Regions from separate parts of the Homo sapiens genome. Here region 1 is linked to region 2. The links come from fine-mapping of genetic effects on gene expression. Tissue or cell type: whole blood. Region 2 holds a variant in brackets; the other region holds the start of a gene. All regions are shown on one strand. Distances are from middle to middle.

The links. PIP is the estimated chance that this variant, and not a neighbour inherited with it, causes the effect.
Region 1: TRIM17 starts here. The variant in region 2 is fine-mapped to the expression of TRIM17 in whole blood (TOPMed, PIP above 0.99).

What each region holds. Positions count from the first base shown.
Region 1 is chr1:228,413,075-228,421,161 of GRCh38, reverse strand. It overlaps TRIM17 (tripartite motif containing 17), which reads left to right and starts at 4,301. Exons shown (of 7, transcript NM_016102.4): 1 at 4,301-4,623; 2 at 6,049-6,518; 3 at 7,270-7,365. The coding sequence starts at 6,090. LOC124904537 (a long non-coding RNA gene) reads right to left here. Exons shown (of 2, transcript XR_007066918.1): 2 at 7,905-8,087. RefSeq lists a silencer at 4,733-4,842.
Region 2 is chr1:228,468,358-228,476,445 of GRCh38, reverse strand. No RefSeq gene overlaps it. Among named protein-coding and RNA genes, the nearest start is that of MIR4666A, 10 kb to the right of the region's middle. RefSeq lists enhancers at 1-435, 5,085-5,595. The variant T/C (reference allele first, on the strand shown) is at 3,429.

The DNA.
Region 1 (8,087 bases), 55 kb after region 2:
CAGCTCCCAACAAGATAGCAGAATAGACCTCCCCAAAATATGCAGATTTGATATAAGAATTATTTTGAGCTGAAGGCACTTGAAGAACAGCAGGTGTAAGAAGGGCCCTCTGACCCCTTTTCCTGAAAGCAGGTGATGAACCCTCCATGGGAAAGGTGCTTGCCTCTACCAGCAGGGAGAAACAGCATGACTAGGCATGGGGACTGAAGTGCAGCAAAATGTATACAAACAGGCTTTGTTAAAGTAGCTCTTATCGCCAGGTAGAGTGGCTCATGCCTGTAATCCCAGCACTTTGGGAGGCCAAGGCAGGCAGATCACCTGAGGTCAGGAGTTCCAGACCAGCCTGGCCAACGTGAAACCCCGTATCTACTAAAAAAACAAAACAAACAAAAAAAATCAGCCAGGTGTGGTGGCGCGCACCTGTAGTCCCAGCTACTTGGGAGGCTGAGGCAGAAGAATTGCTTGAACCCAGGAGGTGGAGGTTGCAATGAGCCACGATCACATCACTGCACTCCAGGCTGGGTGACAGAGTGAGACTCTGTCTCCAACAAACAAACAAACAAACAAAAATAGCTCTTACCTTCCCCAGCCTCCCTAGGTATTCCAGTTGCTTTCTCACAATTACTACCCTTTGTTCCATCCAGTGGATAAGCACTTAGGCCTAACTACTCTTGAGGTCTTCATTTTGCTGTGAAGGCTCCCATGTACATGTACAAATGAAATGTGTATGCTTTCTCCCATTAATCTGTCTTCTTTCGTTTTAGTCTATGCAGGCTGCTATAACAAAATGCTATGGCTTGGTGGTTTATAAGCGACAGGAATTTATTGTTCACAGATCTGGTGGCTGGCAAGTCCAAGGTCACGGTGCCAACAGATTGAGCTTCTGGTGAGATTCTGCTTTCTGGTTCACAGACAGGGCCTTCTCACTGCGTCCTCATGTGGTGCAAGGGGTAAGGTGAAAATAAATCTCTGGAAAGGCACCAATCCTATTCATGAAGGCTCCACCCTTATGGCATAATTACTTTCCAAAGAACTCCATCTCCTAACACCATCACCTTGGAGGTGAGGATTTCAAAATGTGAATTTTGGAGACAGACATTCAGTTCATAACAATCCGGATTTGTTTTTCTGTGGCTCAGTGGACTCTCCTGTTGAGCAGTCTGAATTGAAGACATAAAGAGGCCATGGCTCTCTTACCCTATTTTCAGGAGCCCCTCTTCTTTTCCATTTAATTCAGCCTATTTTAAATTGCATGAGCACTTAAATTTTGCTCTCGAATCTTTTCTACAATGTTAATAACTTAGTGGGGGCTGCATTCAGTAAGGGCAAAGGATATTTACCTTGTAGCAGTGTAAGTAAGACTTGTGTTTCAAGACTGACATTGCTGATCCTTTGCTTAAATAATTTGAAAAAAAAAACCACAATCCACAGCAGTGGTATTTAATTTAAGAATTAAATTATTAAAGTAGAATTCAATTTAAGAATTCCAAAAGGATATATAGTGAAAATTGAGCCTCCCTCAATTAGGGGGTTCCTCAGCCCTTAATTTCCCTCATCAGATGGAGTTTCTTGTTTATTTCTTGTATATTTTCCAAGAGATACATATACAGTAATTATGTTTACCTAAATAGTGGCAGACTACATATACTGTACATCCTGCCTTTTATTAAACCTAACAATTTATCAGGACACATAACTGCTATCTGATTTTTTCTTAATGACTTGAGGATATGAAGGTTATTCCAATTGTTTTATCATGATGATAGATTTCTCAGCTCAATAACCAGGTGAGCCTAAAAAGCATTAATAATGAGCATCCTGGGCTGATGCCACATTTTAACAAGTATTTGTTGAATTCCCCACATCATGCTAGTATGGGAGGAGACTGTGAATTAAATTGACCAAAGACAGACGAACAGGAGAAAGGCATCCATGTTGTATTGATCTTAATATTTTTATATGCATGGGGTGTACAGGAAAGAAGTGAAAACCCAAAGAAGTTGTTAGGCTCAGCTGCTTGTAAACCATTTGTAACAAAGGGTGATAACGTGTCAGCAGGTGACTAGGACATGTGTGGTGCTATGCAAGATATAGATATATTCCATTTCCCCTCTAATTCTGTGATTCTGTTTTCCCAATTGAAGGAAACCTGCAGCTCACAATCCCCTCACTGATGCAAATGACAGGCAGAGGATTGGGTCTGCCCAATCCCCAATTTATTGGGGAAAATAAATCTTGGGCCCCAAAATCACTAGCTAAAAGGAAAAGTCAAGCTGGGAACTGCTTAGAGCAAACCTGCGTCCCATTCTATTCAAAGTCATATCTCTGCTCACTGAGATAAATGTATATCTGATTGCCTCTTTTGGAAAGGCTAATCAGAAACTCAAAAGAATGCAAACATTTGTCTCTTATCTACCTATGACCTGGAAGCCCCCTCCCCACTTCCAGTTGTCCCGCCTTTCTGGATGGAACCAATGTTCATCTTACATATATTGATCGATGTCTCATGTCTCCCTAAAATGTATAAAACCAAGCTGTGCTCGGACCACCTTGGGCACATGGCTGTGTCATGGGCGTGTGTCCTTAACTTTGGCAAAATAAACTTCCTAATTGACTTAAACTAGCCTCAGATATTCTGGGTTCACAAGGGTAATTCACTTAATCGGCCAGTGTGCGCAGCCAGCCCGCACCTGACAGCACACAGACCCCTTTGTGTGTGCGAGTGATGAGAGACCACAGAAGAAACACTCTACCGAGTGAGCCCAGGGAAAGCCAGCCATCTATGCCTGTGGCCAGCTGTCTACACCCGCACACCCAGGAGATTGCAGAATGGTGCCTCTTAGCCTTCAAGGCCCTGTTTTCCTGCCTGTCTGCACCCCCTGTGTGGGCCAAGCCTTAGTTTCTTCATCTGTCCTCTCTCTCCAATCCCAGGACTCTGACTCAGGGCACGCAGGCCTCTGGCTCCTGTTCCTGAAAGCAGGAGATGAACCCTCCATGTGAAAGGTGCATCCCTCTACTGGAGGATGAAGCGTGATGACTAGGCGTGGGGACTCAAGGCCAGGAGAAATGGCCACCAGTCAGGACCTGGGCAGGGCTGGGGGCGGCATTTTGGCTGAAACCGTAAGAGACTTTTAAACCAGAGCAACTCCATCTTGTATAGAGGCTGGGTAAAATAATTCTGAGACCTGCTGGGCTGCATTCCCCAGAGGTTAGACATTCCAAGTCACAGGATGGGATAGGAGGTTGGCACAAGATACACGTCATAAAGACCTTGCTGATGAAACAGTATGTGGTGAAGAGGCCAGCAAAATCCCACCAAAACCTAGATGGCGACCAGAATAACCTCTGGTTATCATGACTGCTCATTATATGCTAATTTTAATACGTTAGCATGCTATGAGATACCCTCACCAGTGCCACAACAGTTTACAGATGCCAAGACAAGGTCACAGTTACCCTATATGGTCTAAGAAGGGGAGGAGCCCTCAGTTTCTGGAATTGCCCTTCCTTTTCTGGGAAACTCATGAATACCCCACCCCTTATTTAGCATATAATCAGTAAATAGCCATAAAAATGGGCAACCTGTAGCCCTGGGGGCTGGTCTGCCCATGGAGTAGCCACTCTTTATTCCTTTACTTTCTTAATAAACTTGCTTTCACTTTACTCTATGGATTTGCCCCGAATTCTTTCTTGCCCAAGATCCAAAACCCTCTCTTGGGGTCTGGATCAGGACCTGTTTCTGGTAACAAAACCACCTGGGGTGTCGGCAAGACCCACCCCGTCCCGCCTGGTTCTAGGGGACCTGACCTGCCAGGTGGTCCCTCCAAACTGGTCCGCCCACAGGATTGGGACGCCCCTCCCTGTACCCTCAGCCTGATGCTGACTGCCAACCATGTGGGCAGACCTGGCGGCTGACTGGCTGCTCCTGGGGACCCCCTTCATAGCTTCTCAACAGGCACTCGCTCCTGCTGCCTCGCCCCCACCCCAGCCCACACAAACTCCTCTCCATCCCCTACCCCGACCAACTTAGCCCCTCACCTAACCCTCCAGCCTGGGGCTCGCGTGCCCTCCCGCAGCCCCAACCCCAGGTTGAGAAGCCTCTTCCAATCCCACTCCCCCCACCCTGACGCTCGCCTGCCCGCCCCTAGCCCCACCAGCTGTCCCCATTCCACTCCCCACCCCCAAGTAACCCCCCAACTCCCCACCCTCCACACTCCCTTAACCTCCCCTAAAAGTCCCACCCCAGGCCAACAAGACTCCTCCCTTCGCTGGGCTGTGGACCACATCCTCCCCACCGCCCAGTCAGCACCCGCTGCGCCTGTCCCCGGCTCGTCCAGAGCCTTCCACCCCCTGCCGCCTTCCTTCCCCAAGCCACCCCCAACCTCTCCTAAGAGGCGCCGCCCCAGTCCCGGCCGCCGAACACTCCCTCGCCCAGCATTCCCCTCCCCCGCCGCCCCCCAGCCCCCGCTGACGCCACAAAGTCCCTAGGCCTCCCGACCCCAGGTCCCCACGCCCCGGGCCGGGCCGCAGCCTCCTGGGCTTCGTGGGGGCAGACCCAGCCTTTCCCGGCAGCGAGCGCTCGGCCAGGTGCACTAGGCGCTGTGCGGGCCCCCCTTCCCCGCGGTGAGTAGCCCCCACCCCGCCGCCTAGGCTACCCTCCTGTGGCGCCTGGGCCACGACCTAAGCCTAACCCGGTCCTCCTCGCCCTCCAACGCCCGGCCTTCCCGCCTCCGCCGGCCGCCGCGTCCCTGGAGGGGCTAGCGCGCTTCAACAAGGTAACTCTACCGGGACCCTAGCGGACCAGAGCGGGAAGGACAGCCATCCCGGCAGCCAGAGCCAGAGCCCCAGGCCCGCTGCCGCTGTCCCTGCCCGGCTTCGGTCAGGGTGGGCTGGGTGCCTCCGTTAGGGCTCTTGGGGGGAGTCGGAGGGCTGGCGCCGGGTGGTTGGCGTGCAGAAAGCTCCGAGAAACTGGACGTGGGACAGAGCCGGGGAAGTCTGAGACCCCTAGACGCCCTCGCTTTAGGGGATGGCAGAACGGAAGGGGAGAATCGTGCTTGCAGTGTAGACGCGATTTTCAACTCCTTCTGCAACTCGGTCCCCATAGCAACCCCGTGGCGTAGGCGAAAGTCTGTAGATCTCCACTGCGTGGGGTCGCGAGTGTTGAGATTGCAGGGGGCATCTATGTGCATGCTTGTGTGCCTGTGCGTGTGTGCGCGCGTGTACCTGTGTGTACATGCATGTATGTTTACCGATATGTGCATCTGTGCCTGTGTGTGCTGTGTTTGTGGATCAGTGTTTCTGTGCGTACATGTTTGTATTTGTGTGGTGTGTATGCGTGGGTATGCGTGTGTGCACATGCACGTTTGTATACATACATGGGTATGTGTATGGGTGTTCGTCTGTGCGTACATGCACACGCGTGTTTTTTCTGAACCCCACCTCACTACCGAATGGAAGAGAGCTTTTTTCCTCTGATAGCCCATCCCTTCTTCCTTTGGTGTACGGGGTTTTGTTAAAGAAAAAATTCTGACATTTGAAAGGCTCTTTAGTCAGGCTACTTGCAATGGGAGAGTTGCGCCAGCAAAGACAGCTGGGGATGTATGGGGGAGTTGGAGTGGGGATCTGGGTGGGGTCAGTGGATGGAAAGTGATTAAGGGAAGGCTCCAAGGGTAGGGGCTTCTCCCTAAGCTGACCTAGCAGGCTTCTCCAGAAAGGCAGGTTGAAGGCCTAGCCGGCAACGGTCTGTCGGGGAGGAGGAGCTGATGAGATGTGGAGCTGGGGGTAGCCAGCAGCAGGCGGAAGTGGACGGGTAGGGTCCAGGCCCAGTGGAGAGGAGAGGCGGAGGGGCCTGCAGAGCATTGGTCAGGGAGGGTCTGTGTAGTTTCTGGGGAGGCATCTGTGTCTGTTGTTGACAAGGCTAAAAATGATGACTCTGGACTCTCTAACTGGACTGCAGTCCTAGCCCTCCTCTGTAAAGGGAGGCTGTACAGGACGGTTGCACACTGCCGGCGCCCAGATCATCGGGCTGCTCCCTCCAACTCTCTCCAGAGTCCCTCAAGCGGGAACCTGCCTCGTGTCTCCCAGGAGCCATGGAGGCTGTGGAACTCGCCAGAAAACTGCAGGAGGAAGCTACGTGCTCCATCTGTCTGGATTACTTCACAGACCCTGTGATGACCACCTGTGGCCACAACTTCTGCCGAGCCTGCATCCAGCTGAGCTGGGAAAAGGCGAGGGGCAAGAAGGGGAGGCGGAAGCGGAAGGGCTCCTTCCCCTGCCCCGAGTGCAGAGAGATGTCCCCGCAGAGGAACCTGCTGCCCAACCGGCTGCTGACCAAGGTGGCCGAGATGGCGCAGCAGCATCCTGGTCTGCAGAAGCAAGACCTGTGCCAGGAGCACCACGAGCCCCTCAAGCTTTTCTGCCAGAAGGACCAGAGCCCCATCTGTGTGGTGTGCAGGGAGTCCCGGGAGCACCGGCTGCACAGGGTGCTGCCCGCCGAGGAGGCAGTGCAGGGGTACAAGGTAGGCCACATCGGGGCCCAGGTCAAGGGGCCGGGGAGGAGGCATCCAGGGGGACAAGGTGACCCAGATCATGGGGGAGGGAGGAGGTGTCCAGGGACAAAGTGGCCCGAGTCAGGGGCTGGGGAGGAGGCATCCAGGGGACAAGGTGGCCTGTGGCTGGGTAGGGGTGTCCCTGGGGACAATGTGGGCCTACACTGTATGATGCAGGCATTGCAAAATCTTACCTCTCCTCTCAGAGTATTTTGGGTGGCTCTGAGAACCAAACTGATTTGAGACAGATAAGCAGAAGCAAAGCACTGAAATTCATTCCCTGTAAGCTTTCCATGACCCAGGAGTCGCTCCCAAGGAGCCAGAGGCCCATGGAAGCATGTTAGAGCCAAACATGTACCTGAGGAGGATGAGGGTTAGTTTAGCAGGGTCCCTTTGCACAGATTTCTCTGGTTTCGGCTTTCCCGCCCTTGGTAAGAACATGGCTTTCCTCCTGGCCTAGGGCAGTCCTCTCTGGCATGGTGGCTGTGCCTTCTGCTCTTAGGAAGGCCGAGGGTCACAGCAATTCTTACACCTGCCCTTTTTTAAGTGCCTTCAGCTCAAAATAATCCAAGGTGGCACATTCTGGGTGACGTATTTTGATCCCCTGCCCCTCCTGAGGAGGGTCTCTGGGGTGGGTGCAGTTTCAGCGAGCACAACTGGACTCTAGGCAGGAGGTAGGGGGATCGCTGATCCCAAATCCTGCGGTTTGTGTGTCCCACAGTTGAAGCTGGAGGAGGACATGGAGTACCTTCGGGAGCAGATCACCAGGACAGGGAATCTGCAGGCCAGGGAGGAGCAGAGCTTAGCCGAGTGGCAGGTGGGTGCCCAGGGCTGTCCAGTCCCTTTCCTGCTGCTGCTCCATCTTCCTGCATTTCCACGTCTGTGTCTGCCCGTGGGGATATGCTGCCGCAGTGGCAGGAAAAGAAGAAAGTTGCCTCTACCCTTCTAGGTTCTGTGGCTGGCCTCAGAATGAAACTGACTTAAGACAGATGAACAGCAGAGAAAAAGATAAAAAGGCAATTTTAAATTACAGATGCACACATAGGGTGGAGAGAAGGGGCCTCAAAAATCAGACTCAAAGAGGCAGCCAGAGGGTAGGGGCTCAGTACCACAAAGGAGGCAGCCAGAGGGCGGGGGCTCAGTACCACAAAGGAGGCAGCCAGAAGGTGGGGGCTCAATACCACAAAGGAGGCAGCCAGAGGGCAGGGGCGTAGGTCAGCACCACAAAGGAATAGGGCTTGGGGGCCTCTGGGCTGGGGAGGCAGGTGATGTTGGTTAAGTATTTAAACAAGTGTCTCAGGTGAAGAGTTGTTTTTGGAACTCTCTTTCTGGTATAGATGCCTTGACCACTGGAAATTCCTTCATGAAAGGGCACTTTTTAATTTTTTTTTTTTTTTTTTTTGAGATGGAGTTTCACTCTTGTTGCCCAGGCTGGAATCCAATGGTGCGGTGTCAGTTCACTGCAACCTCTGCCTCCCGGGTTCAAGCAATTCTTCTGCCTCAGCCTCCCAAGCAGCTGGGACTATAGGTGCCCACCAC
Region 2 (8,088 bases):
CCTGTAATCCCAGCACTTTGGGAGGCCGAGGCAGGCAGATCACCTGAAGTCGGGAGTTTGAGACAAGCCTGACCAACATGGAGAAACCCCATCTCTACTAAAAATACAAAATTAGCCAGGTGTGGTGGCACACGCCTGTAATCCCAGCTACTCGGGAGGCTGAGGCAGGAGAACCTGGGAGGCAGAGGTTGCGGTGAGCCGAGATCGCGCCATTGCTCTCCAGCCTGGGCAACAAGAGCTAAACTCCGTCTAAAAAAAAAAAAAGAGAGAGAAAGAAAAAAAAGATGTGGGCTAACTGCACAGACCTAGAAAGTTGCGGGGCAGGAGCATCAAGGATCAGGACATTACTGGTGTGTTATCAGCATTGCCCTGCTTCTGATCAACAGGGTGGACAGCTTAGGAGCCAAGGGAAAACTTCCCCTTTATCTTCTGAAGTTTTGTTATAAAATCAGCTGACAGAAGGCAGATTGCTAGGAGGAAAGGCTTACACATCTATTAACATGCATGGGGAGAATCACAGGGTGGTTACCCCACCATGCAATGGGGTGCAGAGGCCTTTATTCTCCTCTTAGGGGAAAGGGAGATAAGGAAGTGTGCATTATTTTAGGGGGATAGTAAATATTTTTTAGGGAAATTCAACGGGCTTGAAGAACATACAATGGTCTGGGACAGTCTGTTGGTTTGTGACAAAGACAGCTTCTACCAGGGCCAATTTTATAGCTAAAAAATATATTTACAGCTAGAAAAAAAAGGTCTGTCCAGGCATGTTGACCGACTTCAGTCCTCATTCCTGTGATGAGAGTTCAGCCGTTTGAAACTCAGGGAAGGGATCGGAGGCCATTGTTTTCTGCTGCAGCAGGTCTGCACTTTAGGCAGATAGGGGAATTTCAGAGAACAGCTTCATCCAGTGCTTTGGGAGAGACAGAAGATTGGGAGACAGGAAGGAGGGGAAGGTCAGAGAGACCTGGAGGCTTCTTATTCAGTTCAGCATGTCAAAGCGCTGGGGTATCAGTTTCTGAGCCCCAAAAAGAGCAAACAGCATTCCTGGCAGGATAGAGGAATGCAAGTGTAGTAACCATGCCTTTGATTTTCTATATTTTCAGAGGCTTTGACATCCAGGGCCTCACTGGCCATGGAGGGACAGCTTCTCCCGGGGACAATTTTATAGCTAGAAAAAAAAATTTACAGCTAGAAAAAAAAATTACTGGGATTGTGCATTTCATATACAAACTCACCAACCCAGAGCCCACAGCCCCAACCACTCATCTATGGAGCTGTCACACTCCAGGCCACTATCGTTCTCTCTCTGTTATTTTGGTTGGCACTCCAAATTTTCTATGTGTAAATGGAAAAAGGGTGAGGGGGATCACAAAATGTTGAAATTGAGAGATGTCTTTGAATGGCACAGTCCAGCCCCTGTGTCTTATATAAAAGGAGACTAAAAGGAGTACATCAGGTTAATACCTACACATATTGCCAACCTGCCAAAACTGAAGACTCTTTTAAAAATTTCCCATTTGCATTTTTCTGCTGTCGGAATTGCATTGCATTGGAGGACACCCAGCTGGTGTCCACTGGGGAATCTATAGAATTGCTTTCTTGGTGTGTGGCCCAAAGCATCCCAAGGTTAGGTACCCAGAGCCTGCTGGGCTTATTCAAACCAGCCATTGTGAGCTAGCTTAGTCTGCCTTGCCTGCTCCTTCCAGTGAAAGCCACAGTAAAGGCTCCTGCCCACACTTTCCCCTCCCTCCATCTGCCTCTTAACTGACCCTGGCGCTATCCCTCGTGGCATCGAAGGCTTAGCAATAGCAAACCCCTCCTCTTGGGAACTGTGAGTAATAAACTATCTTTTCAATGGTGTTTGTCTCCTGATCTGTTGGCCTCACTGTACCTGAGTAATTTTTTTTTTAATTTTTTATTTTTATTTTTATTTTTTTTGAGATGGAGTCTAGCTCTCTCTCCCACTCTGGAGGGCAGTGGCACGATCTCAGCTCACTGCAAGCTCCTGGGCTCACACCATTCTCCTGCCTCAGCCTCCCGAGTAGTTGGGACTACAGGCGCCCACCACCATGCCCAGCTAATTTTTTGTATTTTTTAGCAGAGACGGGATTTCATCGTGTTAGCCAGGATGGTCTCGATCTCCTGACCTCGTGATCCACCCACCTCAGCCTCCCAAAGTGCTGGGATTACAGGTGTGAGCCACCGTGCCCGGCCTTTAATTCTATTTTTAAAAAGTGAGAGGAGGCCCAGAAGAAGAGATGGCAGGGAGTCCTGGCTGGGCTGCAGGATTAGGATTGTGGGTGGGGCATCCAGGGACCATGTACATAGTGAGGGCTTACACAATAGAGATGTGACCAGGTGCTGGAATTTCTCAGTGCCCCAATGCAGAAACATGAACTGGTTGGAGGGAGACCAAGTGCCAGGGAGGAAGTTCCTAGGCCAGATGGGGGACTCATCTAGAATGCCTGCCCGTGTGTGAGCAGCACCATGGTGCTGAGCTAGGGAGAGAAGTGTGGCCATTGACTAGAAATGGAGAAGAGTGAGATGACACCACCAGGGTTTCTATGTGGTGTGCGTCCCTTGGAGTGGAGAGCTGGGGTGAGAAGGTGAGTTCAGTTTTGTAGAAGATTCAGCTTGAGGCTGGAGCCTTTGAGGAGTGTTTTTAAATCTCACTGGGGGCCGGACACGGTGGCTCACACCTGTAATCCCAGGACTTTGGGAGGCCAAGGCAGGAGGATCACTTGAGGTCAGGAGTTCGAGACCAGCCCCCTGAGGATGTAGAGTAAGAAATGTTAGGTAGGTGTGTGGATATCAGAACCACATTTTGGGAAACCCTCTCCCCAAAAATTGTATAGCCCATAAGGAGGAATTTAGGGAAGTTGTTACTACAGGTGGGGACAGGGTGGTGTTAGAAGCTAGACAGGAAGAACAGGAGGGAAAAGCATTCAGAAAGCACTTGTGTAATTGGATGCACAGCTCTCCCTTGGACAAGGCAGCGTGGGTTAAGGGTGCTGACCCCTGTCCAGTTGAAAATCCAAGTATAACTTTTTTTTGAGTTGGGGTCTCACTCTGTCGCCCATACTGGAGTGTAATCACAGCTCACTGCAGCCTCGAACTCCTGAGCCCAAGCAGTCTTCCCACATCAGTCTCTCAAATAGCTGGAACCACAGGCCTGAGCCACCATGGCCAGGTAAATTTTGTATTTTTTATTTTTTTGTGCAGATGTGATCTTGCTATGTTGCCCAGGCTGGTCTCAAACTCCTGGCCTCAAGCAATCCTCCCACTTTGGCCTCCCAAAATGTTGGGATTACAGGCGTGAGCCATGGTGCCTGGCCTTCACATATAATTTGACTCCCCCAAAACTTAACTACTAATAGGCTACTGTTGGAAGCCTTACCAATAACATAAGCAGTCGATTGAGGCAAATT[T/C]TGAATGTTCTATATATTACATACTGTGTCCTTACAATACGGTAAGCTAGAGGAAAGAAAATGTTATTAAGAAAGTCCTAAGAAAGAGAACATGTAGTTACTATTCATGAAAAGGAAGTGAATCATCATAAAGGTCATCCTCGTGGTCTTCACACTGAGAGGCTGCAGAGGAGGAGGAAGGAGAGGAGGGCTTCATCTCGCTGTCTCAGGGATAGGGGTAGCAAAGGCTGGAGAAAAGCGGTGTATCGGTAACCCTCAAAGGTCAAACTCTGGTTGCTCAAGGGTCAGCTGTACAGTTGAGAACCCATGCAGGTGTAGGCACAGGGTAGATAAACGGTTAAAATAGCAAACCAAACAGGCCACAGCCCTCCTGCTAGAGAAAGTATAGGAGTTTCTTACTTTTCTGGAAGGAAGAATTTTTTGATTACGTGTTAGAATTTATTTGATGGTCCAGCACATTAATGACATCATGTAGGGGGAAAATACCCTCCACCCCATCAATTCTTAGTTGAAACTGACCCCTGTTATAAAAGACACATTAGCAAGAGGCACAAATAGCAGCTTACTAGCAGCTACCTTTCCTAGATACATGCGTGGCCCCCAGAGAATGGGTAGTCCTCAAAGAGGTGGCTTTGAATTCCCGCTTTTATGGTATCTTCAACAAAGAACAGTAAATCTGCAGAGAAGTGACAAGATAAGAGAGATGAACTTTGAGTCTCTAGGAACAGCAACTTGGAGAAAGGCACATAAAGGACACATGAAGTCTAGTTAGTAGCCCTTGCTAATGCAGATCCCCTGGTAGCATCTCCAGTCAATAAAGGTGCAAAGTTGTCTTCAGTGCTAACCTCCCTTCTCCCTGGTGAAGTGGGGTGGGGGCTGGATGCCTTCTGTAAATCCATGTCCTGCTTTTAGCCACCCAGAGGGAGGGCAGTGAGCTCTCCTGTATACTTTCTTCTCCATTGCCCTGAGCCCAACAATCCCTCATCTTGCAGGAGGCATATTCTGCTCTTCCACTGGAACAAAATGCCCCCTAGGGGTGACTTAAGAAGACAGCAGGGTGCAGAATCTGAGGCTACAAAACAAGACTAGAAGACTTGGCTGGGGAGTCCAGTCTAGACTCAGGTTAGCTTTTTTTTTTTTTTTTGGAGGCAGTATCTTGCTTTGTCACCTACGCTGGACTGCAATGGCACGATCACAGCTCACTGCAGCCCCCTACTCCCAAGCTCAAGCGATGGCCCCGCCTCATCCTCCCAAGTAGCTGGGGGACGATAGGCGCAGGCCACCACGCCCGTTAACTTTTTAAATTTTTTTGTAGAGACGAGGTCTCGCTATGTCGTGTCACCCAAGCTGGTTTTGAACTCCTGGCCCCAAGTGATCCTCCAGCCTCCTTTGGAGGACACAGATGGACAGGGACCCGGTGGCCAGCCCATTTTCCCATCCCGGCCTGGGAAAGAAGCGTCAAATGCACTCGGGAAAATAACCCACTTCACCTAGTTAATGTCTTGGGCGGTTCTGGGAAAAGCGTTTCTGCGCAGTCCAGAGACCTGGACCTTCATCTCCAGCCTGCGCCCCACGGAGGCGGCACCGGAGCCGGCTTCCTTAGGTGTGTTGGTGACGTGCTGGGCGGGTCTGGCGGACCAGCCTCGCACCTCCTCGGGCGCAACGCGAGTGGGTTCCGTCTTGGGTTCCTGCGCGAAGGGGCAGCCCAGGCTCAGGGCATGCGGCGCCAGGGTGCTCTGCTTCACGAATGCCGGGGTACCGCAGTGCTGGGGTGCCGGACGCAAGGGTGTCAGATGGGGTGCTGCTGGGATTATAAGGGTCACCAGTTGCAGGGATGCTGGGGGTGCTGGGGTTACAGGGGTGTGGGGGCAGAGGATATGAATGCAGGGGTGCAGTGGTACCCGAGTGCAGAAGTGCAGGGGTGCCGGGAGCAGAGTTGTCAAATGGTGTGGTGCTGAGTTCACAGGGGTGCCAGGGATAGAGGGAAGCCCCGGCACCAGAGTGCAGGAGTGTTGGGATGCTGGGGCTGCAGGGGTGCCGGGGAAGATGGGTACGCAGTGCAGGGGTGCCGCGGTGCTGTGACGCCCCAATACTGAGGGGTGCAGTATCCAGTTGGTTCTAAATTCATTCTCACCCGCCTCACACCACAAACCAATTGGCTGATGCGCCTTCTCGAGCTTTCCAAAGCCACCCTTCATTCCGCTGCCTCTCTGCGACCCTCGGTTTTATTTCTGAGTTTGGAATTTGTTGTATTTCATGCACGTTTGCGCCTTAATGTTTTCTCCCCAATCTTTGCATGTCACCAAGATTTCTCGACCCCCGTGTGGCACAGGGATGAGGCTGCTTCGGGGTTTACAGGGTGGAGGAGGCCGGCTTGCGTGTTCCTCAGGGTAAATCGGGGATCAGTCCAGCTCCCCTCCCCACCCATCCCCCGGAGCCCCTCCCCCAACTCCTGCTCCCCTCCCCGCCACCCTCCCCCACCCCCCTTCCTCCCCGCATACTTCTTGTCTCCCATCTGAGAGCCCCTCCCCTCCCAACCCGCCCCACCCCGGTATCCCCCACTTGCCCACCTCCTCCTGCACTCCCCCTGCACCCCTCCTAGCCCACCGTAGGGCACCCCTCCCCGCACACTCCCCGGCTCTCCCTTCCCTGGTGGAAACCACCTCTCCTGGTTAAATAATAAATATTTATTATTTATTATTTATTACATAAAATTCCCTTATGTCTTGTGATAGGTACGTTGCCGGTTTCCATATCTTCTCCAAATGCTGCTTGAAGCCACCAGCTTCGCAGTCAGCAGCCCGTAAGATATTTAATTGCAGTACGTAAGAAGAGAAATCTGTGGTATAATATTAGCTTGGGGAAGGGAGATCACTGGCCTTGAAGAGCTTTTCGCCAAAAGCTACTGTAGGGCAGGAGCTGCTTCGCTGGGTGGACAGGGCCACCAAAGGCCGCCGTTCAGGTTACCCCAAACCTGCTGCTCAGGGAGCACGCCTCGGGTTCCCAGGCTGGTGCCCTCGCCCGGGCCTGCCTCTGTTTCACTGATTGGCTTTCATGCTCCTGCTTTGCTTCTGCATCCACACCACCTGTCGCTGGCATTTGCAGCTCTTTTCTAAGTGCTGAAATGCAATGGAAATGAGCACAAAAGCTGCTCCTGCGGACGTGGGCGCTGGGAATCAGCCGGTGTGCCTCCTCGACTTGGTCAGAGGGCCTGCCCTCTTGGGCATCAGGTCCCCGGGGGCACCGGCCTTTGTCCCCCGTGCTCCGAGCGCTGGGCTGGGGAGCTCCCAGGTGCTGGCCCGGCGCAACCCGGTGCCTTTAAGCAGGGTGGGGGCGCGCCGGGAGGAGGTTGCTCTCAGGCGCCCCAGGAGTCGCCCCTGATGGAAACGCGCCTTGGCTGTGGCAGGAGGGCCTTTGTCCATAGGATGTCAACTGGAAGCCCTGAGAAGCGCAAGGCTGCCCAAACCCTTTTTTCCTTCTTTGCAATCCTGCAAGCATTACGGGAGGCCCCAATGTTCCCTGCAGAACTCCATAGCACACCCTGTCATTTCAGCCACTCCCAGTTCCTCCGCTTTAAATCGTACAAGGTTCCCTCTAGTCCTTGAGAAGCCTGGAAGCCTGTCCTCTCTGTATCTGTAGGGTGCTGTCCCTCACACAGATCCCACTCTACCGGTGGGGTCTGGATGGAGCATGTGCATTTGCCATTGCAACGTGCAATTTTATTAAATGCTTAAAAAAATAGAGACAGGGGTCTCGCTATGTTTGCTAGGCTGGTCTTAAACTCCTGGACTCAAGGGATCCTCCTGCTTGGGTCTCTCAAAGTGCTAGGATTACAGGCCTGAGCCACCGTGCTGCACCTGTATTAAATGCTTGTTTGTAAGACTTAAAGGGACCTGGCTTCTTGGCTGGTGGGGAAAGCGCTCACTGCAGGAAGCCCTCATCCTAGTAGAGAAGCATACATCATCTAGAGCTGCACAAAAATCTAAGGTGTAAAGATGGACTGATTTCATGCATTCAGTTATTCATTCAACACATTTGTGGACTGGCTTCCAGCCCAAGTACTGTACTCTAGAACGATTAAAGAAGTGCGGGGGGCAGGGGGGAGGTGTTTATTATTTTTCTTAATCATCTAAACCTGGTCACTAAGCTAGAGGCCACTGTTTCTTTTTCTTTTTTCTTTCTCTTTCCCTGTCCTTCCCTCCCTCCGTCTCCCCAACTGTCCCTCTTCTTTCTTTACTTCCTTCTTTCTTTCTTTTCCTTCCTTCCCTCTCTTCTTTTTTCCTTCTTTTCTTCACATGAGGAAAGCTTCAAGTTTACTCCATAGTGTCCGTCTGCCAATACATCATGTTGGTCTTGATCCGAGACACTGTCTCAATTGGCTCAGGCTGTTCTAACAAAATGCTACAGAAGGGGAGACTTAAACAACAGAAATTTATCAAAGTCTTTGGGGGAAAAGAGACCTGTGTGGGAAACATAGAAAAACCCTGTCTCTACAAAAAAAAAAAAAATTAGCCAGGCATGGTGGCACGTACCTATAGTCCCAGCTACTTGGGAGGCTGAGATAGGAGGATTGCTTGAACCCAGGAGTTTGAGGCTGCAGTGAGCTATGAATCACACCACTGCACTCTGGCCTGGGCAACAGAGCAAGACCCTGTCTCAA